2 separate regions of the Homo sapiens genome follow, and region 1 is linked to region 2. The links come from fine-mapping of genetic effects on gene expression. Tissue or cell type: whole blood. Region 2 holds a variant in brackets; the other region holds the start of a gene. All regions are shown on one strand. Distances are from middle to middle.

Region 1 (8,000 bases), 74 kb before region 2:
GCATAAAACTTTAAATCAGTCTTTTCCAATGTACTCCACTGAAGAGACTCCCCTCCCTCTGAAAAAGCTTAATAAAAATCTCAGCACTCATCTACTCTTTGATGTAACTTAAATCTCCACCTCCACTGGCTCTCTCACACCAGCTTTTAGCCATATTTTTAACTAGGTCTCCCCTGAATTAAGAACCCTTTACTGAGCACTGCTTTCTGCATACGTGGACTTCTTCTCTCTTATGTTCTTCACACCTAATTAGGCTGCATCTCTACTTCTTTGTCACCATTTTATTAATCGTAGTTTTGATCTCTCTTCTAAAGAGGTCATAAATTCCTCCTGATTATTTTATTCACCTGGATGTCCAAGTTTATCCCGCACTATATTTGACATCTTTAAATTAGTCTCATTTATTTTTTTTAGTACTTACTGCCTATCTTACACTGTCCTAAACGGTGTGATGTAAAGGAAATAAAGAGCATGACCCCGATCCTTAGGAAATGAAGACATACATAAAATAACAATAAGATATTGGTTTCAAGGTGGGGGACTAGTCACAGAAAGCCCTGTGGCTCTGATAAATACAGAATTGGACCTAAAAATAAGTGTACAATTTGGTGTAAAGGAGAAGGCTACTTTAGATAGAAAGAACAGTATAATTCAAAGCAGGAGGCCATCTGAAGTAAGAGCTGCATAAAAGCTTTCTGACATTTCCTTCTTTGCCCCCCAAAAGGGGCATGTACCTTTTTGTCTTCAAATTTTATTTGAGAATTAGCTATCCATGAATCACAAATTTCCTGTTATCATGATTACTCACAGCCACCACATGTTAGAGCAACTCACAGAGCTTAATACACTAGAGTAATCACAAGGCAGGCTTTTAGAATAATCTCAGGTAGAGACCTTTTACTAAGGAGTGTGGGGAGTCTGGCATCTCTAGGGTCCTGGGCGCACAAAGACAGCTACTCCTCTTGGGTGCTAAAGATATGCACCAGTCATTTTGCTGCCAGACCATTCAAGGGTCATTCAACTTCAGCTAAGTATTTCTTTCATACACAGCTTCAGGACAGACAAAGCCATCTAAAGCAGTCTGAAGCACTGAATTCCTATTTTAAACAGGGAATGGTAAATGGTCTTGCCAGGGATGCCCCTTTTCCACTGTTTTCCTGGAGAGCTCTTCTCCACCTGCCTTAGGACTCACAGTTCAAGCATCCCTTCCTCTGTGAAGCCTTTCCTTTTTTTTTTTTTTTTGAGACGGAGTCTTGCTCTGTTACCCAGGCTAGAGTGCACTGGCAGGATCTGAGCTCACTGCAACCTCAGCCTCCCGGGTTCAGGCGAGTCTCCTGCCTCAGCCTCCCGAGTAGCTGGGATTACAGACATGCACCACCACGCCCGGCTAATTTTTGTATTTTTAGTAGAGATGAGGTTTCACCATCTTGACCAGGCTGGTTTCGAACTCCTGACCTAGTGATCCATCCGCCTTGGCCTCCCAAAGTGCTGGGATTACAGGGGTGAGCCACCATGCCTGGCCTGTGAAGCCTTTCCTAATTCCTCTGAACTGACTTAGGTCGCCTCCCCTGTGCTTCCATTAACAACGTACACATACTTCTACAGCAGCACTTACCACACCGTGTTTTAATTGTTTACATGTCTGACTAGCCATAAGCTCTTTGATGGCAAGGGTAATGTTTTACCCATCACTGATTGCACACTTCATAGGCACTCAATAAACACTTGTTAAATGCATTAATAATGGATGATATTGGAAGTCTTAAAGAATGGCAACTATACTTTCTGGATTCCAGACCAAAATTACAGTAAGAATTAACAATGAAGGCTAAACTCTCATTATATGTTTCTACTACATATATCATTCCTGGCCAGAAAAAGAGGCCAAAGATTGGAGAAGATTGCTCTAACAGTGCTGGTCACTGCCAAGCTACCAGCCAAGAATAAGAGCACTTGCAGTATTAAGAATGAACAGAGTCATATCTAAGGCAATTTCTACATTTCAGGCTTCTTTGCCTGCCTCAGGAGAATAGAAACAATGATGAATAAGAGACCTTGGAAGGGTCACAATGTCCACCATCACAAAACCTTGTAGCAAACTGTGATTCAACACAACTTCTGCTGAAATATACAGGAAAGCTCTTCACCTTCTTACCAAATCTACTCAAAGTTCTGCTAAGGAACACAGGGCTGAACTAAGTCCTCCCAGAACCCTGCCATTTGTACAGTGGCATTCTAAATCATTCCTCATGGGATTTACTCATCACTGAAGAGATACAGGCAAAGCAATACAATGCTGTGGTCTCAAATGCCTCTCCCTGTAACAACCTTGTACCTCACAACCCTATTGGGTTTACAGGCTACTAATAAGACACAAAATCTGATCTGATCCTGTGGGAGTAAAGCCCTGGATTCCCTCAAGGGATTAAATAAATGTCGACTACTTCTGGATTCCCAAAGTTGTGGGGTTTATTTAGTTGAAAAAGCATAAGGACCAAAACACAGACAAGTGAAGCGATGGAAAGGAACTTTGCCTCTGAGGATCATCTGCAGCTGAGTGGGATGTGGCTCTTGGCATATAGTGAATGAGATAAGCAATGCTCAAGGGCCATCCAGAACTGTTTTGCTGACAGATATCTGGCTTCTTGCATGTTATTCCTAAGAAGCCAAAAGGCTCCAGTTAGCCTCTTGAAGAGACAAAAAAAATTTGTTTTCACCGTAGGCAAGAGCAATTACCAAGCCAGTAACTCTGACTAGGTGTTTTAGCATATTTCTTTCTGCCACTACAGTCTTACATAACCCCAGCTGTTACGTTAACACCTGCAGCTACATTAGTCACAGCTTAGCCCTTCACAAGGTATGTGTTCCTACTGTCCTCTCCCAAGAAGGGAAACTGAGTCATAGCATATCAACTGGCTTCCCAAGCACATGCTTAGTGTATAGTGAGGCCACAATTGAACCCAGGTGGTCTTCCTACTATTCACCTTTTCTCATGGATGAATCTCAGCATGCCCACCCCTGCTGCTCTTTTTCCTTCAACCTAAAACCAAATCATTGCCTGCAGAGATCATATGTGATCCTTTAGAGTCAACAAGGGCTTCTAGTTATCTTTCCCAAGAAACAGGAAGGTTAACGAGGAACATGGAGCAGGAGAGGGTGGGTTTGGAAAGAGGTGGATCCCAACAGGACTCACCTTGGAGCTGAGGTCCTCTCGTCGGTTTCCTGCCTTACTCCTGCGCAGTTTGATGGATGGAGATCTCAACAGATTCTTGATCCGGCTGGTAATGGTTGACCCTTCCACAGCCATTATGACGAGAAACCCTTTGGGACAGTCCCCGGCCCAGTCCTGGGTCTTGTCTCAACAGCGGCACTGTCTTCCCACTCCAGAGGGCTTCCCAGTATGCCCTCTCACTGACCTGAGATGGCAGAAGCCACCTTAGTATCACAGTGTCTTACCTTCTGCCTAGCGAAGTCTGCAGCTTTTACCTCTGGGTATTGCTCTCACCATTTCCCTCATCCCCACCTTCTAGCCCTGCACAGTTTCTTACAACGTCGGAAGGAAAGGCTCACGAAAAAGGGGGGGAAAATCCTAAGCCACGAAGAAATGCCAGGCCCACGCCCGCCAGAGGCGTTTAACTGGCGAGATGGATGGGATGGGCCCCAGTTGGTCTCGTGGACGATCTGGTTCCCGTTAATGCCCAACTGTTCCCATGGCAACTGTAGTGTCCAAGGGAGGAGGCCGCCGAGACCACCAGGGATTTCCGCAGGCCTGGACACCTGCGCTAGCGCCGGCGGGGACGCGGCGGGGCTCGCCGTAGCCCACAACTCGTTCTGCCACGGGAGCCTCCCTCCCCCACTCCCTATCCTCCAGAGCTCGCTCTCCGCCCTCCACAGCGGCTCTGGACCTTTATCTTTCACCCGCCTCTGAGGCCCCTGCTACTCGTCAGCGCCCCCGTTCGGGCCCAGCCTCACCAGCCTCGGCGAGCTAAGGCCACCCCGCTCACAGCGCCCTCGGGCATCGCGTTCGGCAATTTCAGCTCCGCCGCGGTAGCCGCAGCGGTAGAGGCAGCAGCAGGAGCTATGGTGGCACGATCGGCTCAAAACGCGAACTACCGCCTGGGCCAAGCCGCGGGCTGGGTGGGCGGAGCCGACGCGAGGGGCGCGGCCTGTAGTCAGGAGAGCGCTTCCAGAGTGGACGAGCAAGGTTTACGGGGGCGGAGCCAATGAAAGGGCCCAGGAAGCAGACGGCTTGGGACTAGGGAACCACGGAATCCGCACAATTGCGGGTACCGCTTTTAGAGGAAGGTCAACAGAACATGGCTTCAGAATTGAGAGAACCAAGCCTTTTATGGTATTATCAGGCCTGGTCCCCCATGGAACTGCACTTCCCAGAGCCCCAAGACGATAACCACGCCTCCAGGGTGTTAAGGTTGTCATCTGATAGGCCCGAGGGACCGTAGCTGAAACTCCTAGCTCAGAATTACAAGACTGAGCTACAGCCTAAAAGCTCTGCTCCCAGCGACCACAAGTGTTGAGATTTAAAGCGACTGAAGTAGTTTCTGCTCGCAGCCAGTCCGGCACGTAGACTCAACGTGGAAAGGATTATTCTGAGTAATGCAATTTAATAGCTAAGAACAGTATTTTTGCACTGGGCAACCTGGTCATCATGAAAGGGGAAAGGGTGGCCTTGAACAGAGCTTTGGGCGTGCGGGGGAAAGAGAAGTGAATATGCTATGTTATAATACTTTAGGTTTCATGGCTTCTTTAGCCTCCAACATCCCATTGTGCTTCCTCACCTAAAGCTGACCAGGACTTTGTTGCTCCAGATCTTTTCCTCATTCCATTTACTTATGAATCCTTTTATCTAGGGCTGTTCCTTGCTGAGGTCACTGTCGAGCTTGCTGATACTAGATCGAGGGGTAGTTTTCTAACTCATGTCGGGGGAGGCAGAGGGAATACACGGAAATGTTACATGAAATAGTATTTCCTGAGTATTCTCCACTTGACTACTACCACAAGAAATCACCTTATGAAAAAGCCTAAGCCAGAGACTTGGGTCCCAAGGGAATAGTACACTGGTGTGTCCGTCTCACCCTATCCAGATCTTTTGAATCCCTGTGGAGATGACATGTGTCTGCAAGAGGGAAGAACCTCTAACAAATTATTATACCTTATGAAAAAGCCTAAGCCAAAGACAAGGGACCCAAGGGAGTACTACACTGGTGTGTCTGTCTCACCCTATCCAGATCTTTTGAAACCCTGTGGAGATGACATGTGATAACAAGAGGGAAGAACCCCTAAACTCATTGCTTGTGTACAACGGTGAGCCTTTAGAGCCAAGTGGCAAAGCACATATTTTCTTGTGTATACTGTAGCCACGTACTGAAAATTAGATTTGTAAAGCTCACAAGTTGACATGGAGATGATGGATGTCACCTCCTGGAGACCAACTGGCAATAGCACGTGGCCTTCTTCCCTTCAACCATGCACTGCAAATATTATGAAACAGAAAATACGATTTTCAAATTTATTTCCCAAGTCTGGAAGAAGAAGGCAAGAACCATTAGCTACAATATGCAAGAGGTAGTTGGTTCCTTCAACCTCTTGGTAGTTACATGATGGGACCTCTCCATGGGATTGAAAGCTAATAAATGGTGCCACCTGGTGTCTTTACTTGCATGCTGCAGACCACGGCAGATGCCATCTCCACCCATGAAACTAGAGTAAAAATGTGCCCACAAGAGCCGTCCCTAATCCTCTCCAGATCATTCTGGTGTCCGCTAACGGTTTTCTCACCTGATCACTCATGGCCAGATAAATGGTTTACAAAGTATCACTGGTCATTTCTTTCATGAAAAACAACTGAAAGCATTTTAATGAGGATTTCTTAAGTCTGGAATCTGGGTACTTCCAGTCTTAGGCCAAAGCCACGCTTTTTTTTTTTTTTTTTTTTTTTTTTTAAACAGAGTCTTGCTCTGTCCCCAGACTGGACTGCAGTGGCGATCTCAGCTCACTGCAACCTCCGACTCCTGGTTTCAAGCCATTCTCTTGCCTCAGCCTCCCGAGTAGCTGGGATTACAGGCACGCGCCACCACACCCAGTTAATTTTTGTATTTTTAGTAAAGATGGGGTTTCACCATGTTGGCCAGGAGGTCTCGATCTCCTGACCTCGTGATCCGCCTGCCTTGGCCTCCCAAAGTGCCAGGATTACAGGCGTGAGCCACCATGCCCGGCCCACACATTTTTAATTCTTCACAATTCAGTCCAACTTTTATTGTCTAGGTACTACACTGCCTTTGAGATACCAATATAGGAATAAGCTATATAGGCTATTCCCATTCTTCATTAATTCCTCAGAAAATAACAGTCCCAGGTCTAATGTGAACAGAAGCATTATTCACTTTTCTCCACTCAGATTTACAGTCATGCACTGTATACATTTCAATGACCACATGATCCCATTAAATTATAATATCATATTTTTACCATACCTTTCCTATGTGTAGACACACAAACACCACGTGTTACAACTGCCTATGATATTCAGTGCAGTTAACATGCTGTACAGAGTTGTAGCCTAGGAGCAACACAGCCTAGGTGTGTGGTTAAGCAACACCATCTAGGTTTGTTTAAGTACAGTACACTCTATGATGTTTGCAGAACAAAACCACCCAAGGTGCATTTCTCAGAACGTATCCCCATCATTAAGTGACGCATGACTCTACTTGCCATCCCAATCCTCCAAAATGCAGTTAACTCTTCATAAGTATTTCATCATCCATACACTATTTAACACTTTATTCTACTTTTATATGTCCTAAACATCTATACATAGTGTTTGCCAGCTTCTGAAATTCTAGATGTCTGGGGAATAGACGTTATATAGTTGTCTGTTTAGCACTATACTCATTAGATCAAATTTTAAAATTCACCCTAGGCATAACATGCAAATAAGGTATAAGTTCCTGGGAAACAGTCTAAACATTTGCTCATCAATTCAAATATTTATTGAGCACCTTTACATGCAAAGGCACTGTGCAACAGCTGAGATCAATGATTGCAGTTGGAAACACAATGGATCTCAAAACCATGCTTCCAAGACTGCTTTCCTACTTAATATCTTTTCTACCAGCAGAGTTTACAACAATAGAAATTAGTAGAGTTTAGATTTGTCTCAAAATTTCCAACTCATCCCATAGTCTTCCCATCCTCTTAATGCACCACCATCACTATTCAACACTTATGTGTAGAACAGCTCAGTCATGTCTAACATTAGCTACACCTCAAACAAAAAGTTGTACTTATCAAATTATTTCCCTCTATTCCAAAAAATGCGTTATAACTGATTTTTTTCCTCCAACTGGCAGTGAGTCTGAATATCTCAGCTTTAATTTTCCCTGCACCTAGATATTTGTGTCCATGTAAAATTTCATTAGTAGGCCGGGCGCAGTGGCTCACGCCTGTAATCCCAGCACTTTGGGAGGCCGAGGCGGGCGGATCACAAGGTCAGGAGATTGAGACCATCCTGGCTAACATGGTGAAACCCTGTCTCTACAAAAAAATACAAAAAAATTAGCCGGGCACAGTGTCGGGCGCCTGTAGTCCCAGCTACTCCGGAGGCTGAGGCAGGACAATGGCGTAAACCCGGGAGGCAGAGCTTGCAGTGAGCCAAGACGGCACCACTGCACTCCAGCCTGGGCGACAGAGTGAGACTCTGCCTCAAAAAAAATAAAAATAAAAATTTCATTAGTGATAATACAGTGACATGAAGTACTGATGCCTTTACAGCACCTTCTTCAAAACCAACAGTTTTGTGCAAGAAATGTATTCTGATTCTTGGTTATCAGTCATTCTCTATAAAAGTACCTGGAAAATGTGCTGTGTATGGTTTGTTGTTGTTTAATTCTGGAGTGAGGGACAAGGGCTGTCACTATTTTCTAGACCCGTTTTTAAAGTGCATCACCCTATTTGATTTCAAATATCTCAACCAGTATAGTTAG
Region 2 (8,000 bases):
TTTATTCAACCAGAGCCTACTTAGAACCTAAAATCTTGTCTACATGTCAGTTTAAACTATATTTCTAAATCGTTTTGCTTCATTTCACCATATTAGAAGCTACTTCTTAAAAATGTGTTATAATGTCATTACAAAAAAAGACTCATAAAGATAAAGCTGAAAAGAGATAACCTTTAGATTCAAGCAAAGACAGATTCACCTACAATAAGATATAGCCAAAAATGCCAACTGCTAGCTAAAACCACTGAAATACAAAAGTACACTCAAGATGTTTATAGTTCTATAAACACCTATATAAGTAGTAAACACAGAATAGAAAAGCACATATTATAAGGAAAACTCCAGCTAATCACCAATTTTTTTTGTTTTGTTTTGTTTTTGAGACGGAGTCTTGCTCTGTCACCCAGGCTGGAGTGCAGTGGCACGATCTCCACTCACTGCAAGCTCCGCCTCCCAGGTTCAAGCCATTCTCCTGCTTCAGCCTCCCCAGCAGCTGGGACTACAGGTGCCCACCACCACTCTTGGCTAATTTTTTGTATTTTTAGTAGAGACAGGGTTTCACCGTGTTACCAGGATGGTCTCGATCTCCTGACCTTGTGATCCACCCGCCTTGGCCTCCCAAAGTGCTGGGATTACAGGCGTGAGCCACCGCGCCTGGCCGCTAATCACTAATTTAATGTAACATTCAGAATTTTTTTTTTTTTACTGCAGGGCACCATGGCTCACACTTGTAATTCCAGCTACTTGGGAGGATGGGCTGAAGCCAGGAGTTTGAGACAAGCCTAGGCAAAACTGGGAGACCCCATCTCTAAAAAAAAATATTTTAAGGAAAAATAAAGCATTTTTATTAAATTACTAAAAAAGGAAGAGGAAGACAGTTCTTGAAATATTGTCATTACTCATAAAGGAAATTAACATTAAAACCGGCCAGACATAATGGCTCATGCCTATAATCCCACCACTTCAGGAGGCCAAGGCGGGCAGACCTCTTGAGCTGAAGAGTTCGAGACCAGGCTGGGCAACATGGCAAAACCCCATCTCTACAAAAAAATACCAAAAAAAATTAGCCAGGTGTGGTGGCATGTGCTTGTAGTCCCAGCTACTTGGGGGGCTGACATGTGATCACTGGGGCTCAGGAGGTCGAGACTGCAGTGAGCCATGTTCACATCACTGCACTATAGCCTAGGCTGGGTGACAAAGCGAGACCCTGTCTCAAAAACAACAACCAAAAACCAAAACAAAACATTAAAACTGACAAGAGTCCACACTGATAAGTGAATTTTTTATTTTTATTTTTTGAGACAGTCTCGCTCTGTTGCCCAGGCTGGAGTGCAGTGGCAGGATCTCCACTCACTGCAACCTCCATCTCCCAGTTTCAAGCAATTCTCCTGCCTCAGCCTCCAGAGTAACTGGGATTACAGGCACGCACCACCACACCCAGTAAATTTTGTATTTTTAGTAGAGATGGAGTTTCATCTAAGTGAATTTTTTAAAAAGAAGAATAGATAAATCTCTGGTGCAAAATAACTACAAATAACTTATATAGATAGGCTACACTCAAGGAGGTACAATATAACTTCTTGCACATTAAGTGTGAGCTAAGCATAATGACTTCCTTCCAAAGAGTACAATATGGAGAGAAAGGGAGGGTGGGGAGTGGGGGGGGGGGTAACTTCACAATGAATAAACTGACAATATCTTAGCCAGGTGATCAAGGTCAACATCAATAGTGATAAATCATGTTAATGTATGTACTCTTGATATGATGAGATGATAAGTCTCAACTGAGGGACATCTATAAAAATACCTGACTCTTCAAAACTGTCAAGGTCATTAAACACAAAATCTGAGAAACTGTCACAACCAGGAAGATCCTAAGGAGACATCACTACTAAAAGTCTTGTGGTATCCTGAATGGGATCCTAGATGCAAAAAAAAGGACATTGGGTAAAAACTAAGGAAATCTGAATAAAGTATGAACTTTAAATAGTAATATATCAGTACTGGTTCACTAACTGTAACAAATGTACCAATCTTATGTTAGATATTAATAGGAGAAATTCTGGATACTGAGAGAATTAGGAATGGGGGGAAAAAAAATAGGTATTCTCTGCACTGTGTTCTTAATTTTTCTATAAATCTAAAACTCTTCCAAAACATAAAGCTTTAATAAAAAACTGACAATAATTGACTTGGTAGCAATGAAGGAGAAATGCTTTAAACACACTTTTAAAATGCAAAGACAGACGATAATTTCAGATAAGCTAACAGACTTAAAAAGCAGACCAATGTAGATACAGTAAATATAGCAAACAAAAATATAGTACCACGGAAAGAAAAATTAAGAATCTTATTTTATTTTTAAGTAAAACTACCAACAACAATATAACATTTTCCCAGGCTTAATCAACACTGCTTTCCCAATTTTAAAGCAAATTCAAAAAGCTTTTCTAGTTTTTCAAGGGTTTTCAGCTCAGAAGAAGTTTAACTGCTATTTTCTAATTAATGAAATTATAGTTAATAGCAGGACAAGGAAATATGACATTAAGTTGAAATTCAACAAATTATTTCAAGAATCAAATTTTAGAGATGAACCTGGAATACTTTCATTCTCTTCAGAGCCCTGGGATTGGCATCACCCAGTTAATACAAATATTTAGCCAAATTAACTTACTCTTCAGAAACTGTTTAAGTCCAGCTTTTTTTTTTTTTTTTGAGACAATGTCTCACTGTGTCGCCCAGGCTGGAGTGTGGTGGCGCGATCTCGGCTCACTGCAAGCTCCGCCTCCCGGGTTTTCAAGCAATTCTCCTGCCTCAGCCTCCCAAGTAGCTGGGATTGCAGGTGCTCACCACCACACCTGGCTAATTTTTTGTATTTTTAGTAGAGACGGAGTTTCGCCACGTTGGCCAGGCTAGTCTCGAACTCCCAACCTCAAGTGATCCACCCGCCTTGGCCTCTCAAAGTGCTGGGATTACAGACTTGAGCCACCGAGCCTGGCCCAAGTATGGCTTTTTAAAGGAAGCCAAGGTTGGGGAGAAAAATATGCTAAAATAAAATAGAGGAAAAAAAACCCAAAACAGGACTCCACTTCACACATTGAAAAGTAAGTACCAGACAGATTACAGATTTAATTGTTTTTCAAAAAAACAAAACTGTGTCAGCATGTAGTTGAATAAATTTTAAAAACCTTAGGATTAAATACAAACTTGCACCAAATGTAGAATCTATAAAGAAGGTGAAAAGTAATAGCTCAGACACCTTTTGTTTGGCTGTGTTTTTAAAGCTTTGAGTTAGGTGCCCAAAAAACTATTAGCTGCCACCACTTCAGAGACATCACATAGCCACTCCAGCTTCTACTGAACTATGAGCAGACCTGAGAATTTTGGGCCCATTTTTCCATATGACAACAATCCACTGATGCAGCTGTCCCTTTAGAAGAAGTGCCTGTACTCTACCCGACCAGAGTCCAACTCTACCCCCCAAATTCAGGCTAATTTCACTATATATGTTACCTAGTCAGTTTCCATAAACACTGGCCTTTGAACACCCCATTCCATTAAGGAAACGATTACAAATTTGACTAAGATGTCTATAAAAGAAAGAAAAACAGTCAAAGCTTAGCCAACCAGCAAATACTAGGCAAATAAACCAGAGCAAAAGGACCAGCTGCAAGCACTGAATATATTTAACTCTAGAACTAAGATTTTTAAAATGTGGGAGATTAAGTTAAAAGAACACAATATAAATGTCATAATATTTCTACATTATCAAGAAAATAACAAAAAAAATGGAAGTGGAAAAGGGAGAAGACAGGTTAAGTTAAAGATAGGGAGAAATGAAGAAAGGAAAAGGGGAGAAAAAAAGATAGGGAGAAATAAGATAATATTATTTAAATAAAATAGCAGAAGCTAAAGCTGACAATAAACAGCAGCAAACGTTATCTGCAAGATTGCTATGATGTGACTGTCTATTACAATCCACAGCAATCAGCCCACATTGATTGACTGAGACTGGGATCTGCACACTTTTAAGATCGCACTGTCACACAAGCTGCCTTCCATTAAAGCAAAAATTCTTCAAGTATTACCATTTGATTTAGAAACGGAATGACCAGCATATAAATCTTTTGTTTGATAACTTATAATGTTTAGACTCTCAGGTAAATGAACTACTTATAGTGTAAATAGTCTAGACACCCTTCTGAAAATTAATGAGTCAAAAATTCAAAAAACTACTCCAAGATGCCTATCTAAAATCAAAGATAGTCGTAAGAAACTAAAAATTGGGGCACAGCCTAAAATTTTTCATTACACCCCAAAACAGGAAAATTGGTAGTGATCATGATGTTAATAACCATAGTAGATATGTTTTTTTAAAGATTAAGCAACATAATCAAGGTCAAGATAATGCATTACAATAAAATAAAGATAAAAATGAAAACTGCAGCCATAAAAAAGAATGAGTTCATGCCCTTTGCAGGGACATGGATGAAGCTGGAAGCCATTATTCTAAGCAAACTAACATAGGAACAGAAAACCAAACACTGCATGTTTTCACTCGTAAGTGGGAGATGAACAATGAGAACACATGGATGCAAGGAGGGGAACATCACACACCAGAGCCTGTTGGTGGGGAGGGAGAGCATTAGGACAAACACCTAATGCATGCAGGGCTTAAAACCTAGATGACAGGGCCGGGCGCGGTGGCTCACGCCTGTAATCTCAGCACTTTGGGAGGCCGAGGCGGGCAGATCATGAGGTCAGGAGATCGAGACCATCCTGGTTAACACAGTGAAACCC[C/T]GTCTCTACTAAAAATACAAAAAAAATTAGCCGGGCATGGTAGCAGGCGCCTGTAGTCCCAGCTACTTGGGAGGCTGAGGCAGGAGAGTGGTGTGAACCCAGGAGGCAGAGCTTGCAGTGAGCTGAGATCGTGCCACTGCACTCCAGCCTGGGCGAGAGCGAGACTGCGCATCAAAAAAAAAAAAAAAAAAAAAAACCTCGATGACAGGTTGATAGGTACAGGAAACCACCATAGCACATGTATAACTATGTAACCTGCACATTCTGTACACGTATCCCAGAACTCAAAGTAAAATTTTAAAAAAAAAAGATAATGAAAATTTTAAATTAACTTCCCAGTGGTACATCAAATATATAAAATAGATGTTTGCAGCCAAAACATGAGACAGAAAAGTATTCTACTGTTTACACACCTAAATATACTACTAAAGGACAAGGAAGACCCTTCCTCCAAAATTATAAAAACAAACACATAATTGGGAGGCCGAGGCGGGCGGATCACAAGGTCAGGAGATCAAGACCATCCTGGCTAACACGGTGAAACCGTCTCTACTAAAAATACAAAAAAATTAGCCAGGCGCGGTGGCAGGCGCCTGTGGTCCCAGCTACTTGGGAGGCTGAGGCAGGAGAATGGCATGAACCCAGGAGGCGGAGCTTGCAGTGAGCAGAGATTGCACCACTGCACTCCAGCCGCCTGGGCGACAGAGCGAAACTCCGTCTCAAACAAACACACACACACACACATAAACAAAAGCAACCAAATTAAGATGAGAAACGGGAAGGGGAGAATACCAGGTTATAAGAATGAACAAAGAAAATATCACTTGCTTTACCATGATACATTTTTTTCTTACATAAGATATTAGACATGGTTTTTAAACTAAAGGGAAGAATTATGGAGACAGAGAAGAGAAAAATATGCAAACTGAAAGACGTGCTGAAAGAAATGAAATCAAGGCTAGAAAGAAAGAGGAAAAAACAGAAAAAAAGAGATGAGAAAGAGAGAGGAAAAAGAGGAGAAACAGTAGGGAAGAAAGAAAAAAAGAAAACAAAAAAAAAGAAGTCGCTAGTCTATTACCTTCTTGAAGACCAGGATGTATCACCTGCTTGTGCCGCAAAGTCTTCAAATCTTCTATCAATTCCTTTTCCAACTGGGAAATTCTTGCTCTGTAACCTACACCCAAAATAAATAGTAATAAAATAAGCTACTGTACACTACAGACAAATGAATGTTGCATGTTTCATTGCTGGAGCCCAAACCACAAATACAACTCTTTTTATACTATTTTATAATACCTGAGTCATTTGTGGTTGATGCCTGGAGACTAGAAGATTCTTCTGTTGTCCCATCAACTGCATGAATGTCTAGAGCTTCCTATACATCAAAAAAAAAAAAAAATAGTAGTTCATATTGCTTCTGAAAACTTAAATGTAAAACAGGATTAAAAAAAACTTAAAGACCAGAAGGAAAATATCTCCATGCCTACAGTTACGCTAACATTGGCAGAACAGGAGCAATTTTTTCATACTTTTTGATATTTTCTAAGTGTTCTACATTAATATTACTTTAATAATCAGAAGGGGAAAAGGGGGAAGTAAAAAAATGTGAATACGATGTCATACTGAGCTAACTGACCTCAAAGTATACGCCAATTTGCATGTTCACTTCTCAGAGCCTATATTCAGATAGCTTACTCAGCTAACAAGAAGGGAGGAAAAGAACAGGTAGAAGGGATTAAATATCCAACATCTGTGTAGTCAATTAAGAAAGACAGCCTGGCACAGTGGCTCACGCCTATAATCCCAGCACTTTGGGAGGCCGAGGCAGGTGGATCACAAGGTCAGGAGATTGAGACCATCCTGGCCACATGGTGAAACCCTGTCTCTACTAAAATAAAAAAAATAGCTGGGCATGGTGATGCACACCTGTAGTCCCAGCTACTCGGGAGGCTGAGGCAGGGGAACTGCTTGAACCCGGGAAACAGAGGTTGCAGTGAGCCAAGATTGTGCCACTGCACTCCAGCTGGTGACAGAGCAAGATTCCGTCTCAAAAAAAAAAAAAAAAAGAGGCCAGGGGCAGTGGCTCACGCTTGTAATTCCAGCACTTTGGGAGGCTGAGGCAGGAGGATCACGAGGCCAGGAGATCGAGACCATCCTGGCTAATATGGTGAAACCCCGTCTCTACTAAAAATACAAAAAAAATTAGCCGGGCATGGTGGCGAGCACCTGTAGTCCCAGCTACTCGGGAGTCTGAGGCAGGGGAATGGCAAGAACACAGGAGGCGGAGTTTGCAGTGAGCCAAGATTGCGCTACTGCACTCCAGCATGAGCCACAGACCGAGACTCCATCTCAAAAAATAAATAAAAAAAGACTGGGCTTCTATAAAAATTTCCAAGAAAAATAATCTGGTTGAAGAGTCAGAGTGGAATAAACAGAGACTTCAATGTGTAAGACAGGAGAGTTAAGATGACTGTTAATATTTGGTTCTCCAATGGTACTCTACTACTACTACTGAAAACCAGGGCCAGGAGCGGTGGCTCATGCATGTAATCCCAGCACTTTGGGAGGCTGAAGCAGGCAGACTGCTGGAGGCCAGAAGTTAGAAATTAGCTGGCCAACATTGCAAAACCCCGTCTCTACCAAAATTACAAAAATTAGCTGGGTGTGGTGGCACACGCCTGTAATCCCAGCTACTCGTGAGGCTGGGGCACGAGAATGGCTTGAACTCGGGAGACGGAGATTGCAGTGAGCTGAGATCGTGCCACTGAACTCCAGCCTGGGCAACAGAGCAAGACTCTGTCTCAAAAAAAAAAAAAAAAGAAAAGAAAAATAAAAGAAAACCAGGAGGTAAAAGAAATGGAGCGTCACCAAAGAGTTAGTAAATATTTCATGTATTTTTAGTCCTTTCCAAAATCCATAATGATGAAAATTCCAGTAAGACCCGAAGACTTTTTTTAAACACAGCTATGCAAAAATCGTAAACTGAAATCTAAGCAAGACATACTTTTTTAAGTCTATTCAAATGAAGTATCTTAAGTTATTCCTATTAACTAAACCAAACATTTTGGAGACACTTCCCTCCCAACTCCACCCCCCATACACCCTCACAAATAGATATCACAAAACTAGATTGTAAATCGAGTTACTTACAAGCCAGTATACAATTCAAGTATGACTAATTAGCCTTAAAGAATCCTGAA

What was found. PIP is the estimated chance that this variant, and not a neighbour inherited with it, causes the effect.
Region 1: it holds the start of MAPKBP1, and the variant in region 2 is fine-mapped to the expression of MAPKBP1 in whole blood (TOPMed, PIP 0.98).

The regions. Positions count from the first base shown.
Region 1 is chr15:41,770,583-41,778,582 of GRCh38, reverse strand. It overlaps MAPKBP1 (mitogen-activated protein kinase binding protein 1), which reads right to left and starts at 4,099. Exons shown (of 31, transcript NM_014994.3): 1 at 3,973-4,099; 2 at 3,194-3,416. The coding sequence starts at 3,307. RefSeq lists an enhancer at 4,603-4,652.
Region 2 is chr15:41,697,038-41,705,037 of GRCh38, reverse strand. It overlaps MGA (MAX dimerization protein MGA), which reads right to left. Exons shown (of 24, transcript NM_001400225.1): 4 at 6,097-6,175; 5 at 5,879-5,974. Among named protein-coding and RNA genes, the nearest start is that of MIR626, 9.5 kb to the right of the region's middle. The variant C/T (reference allele first, on the strand shown) is at 4,801.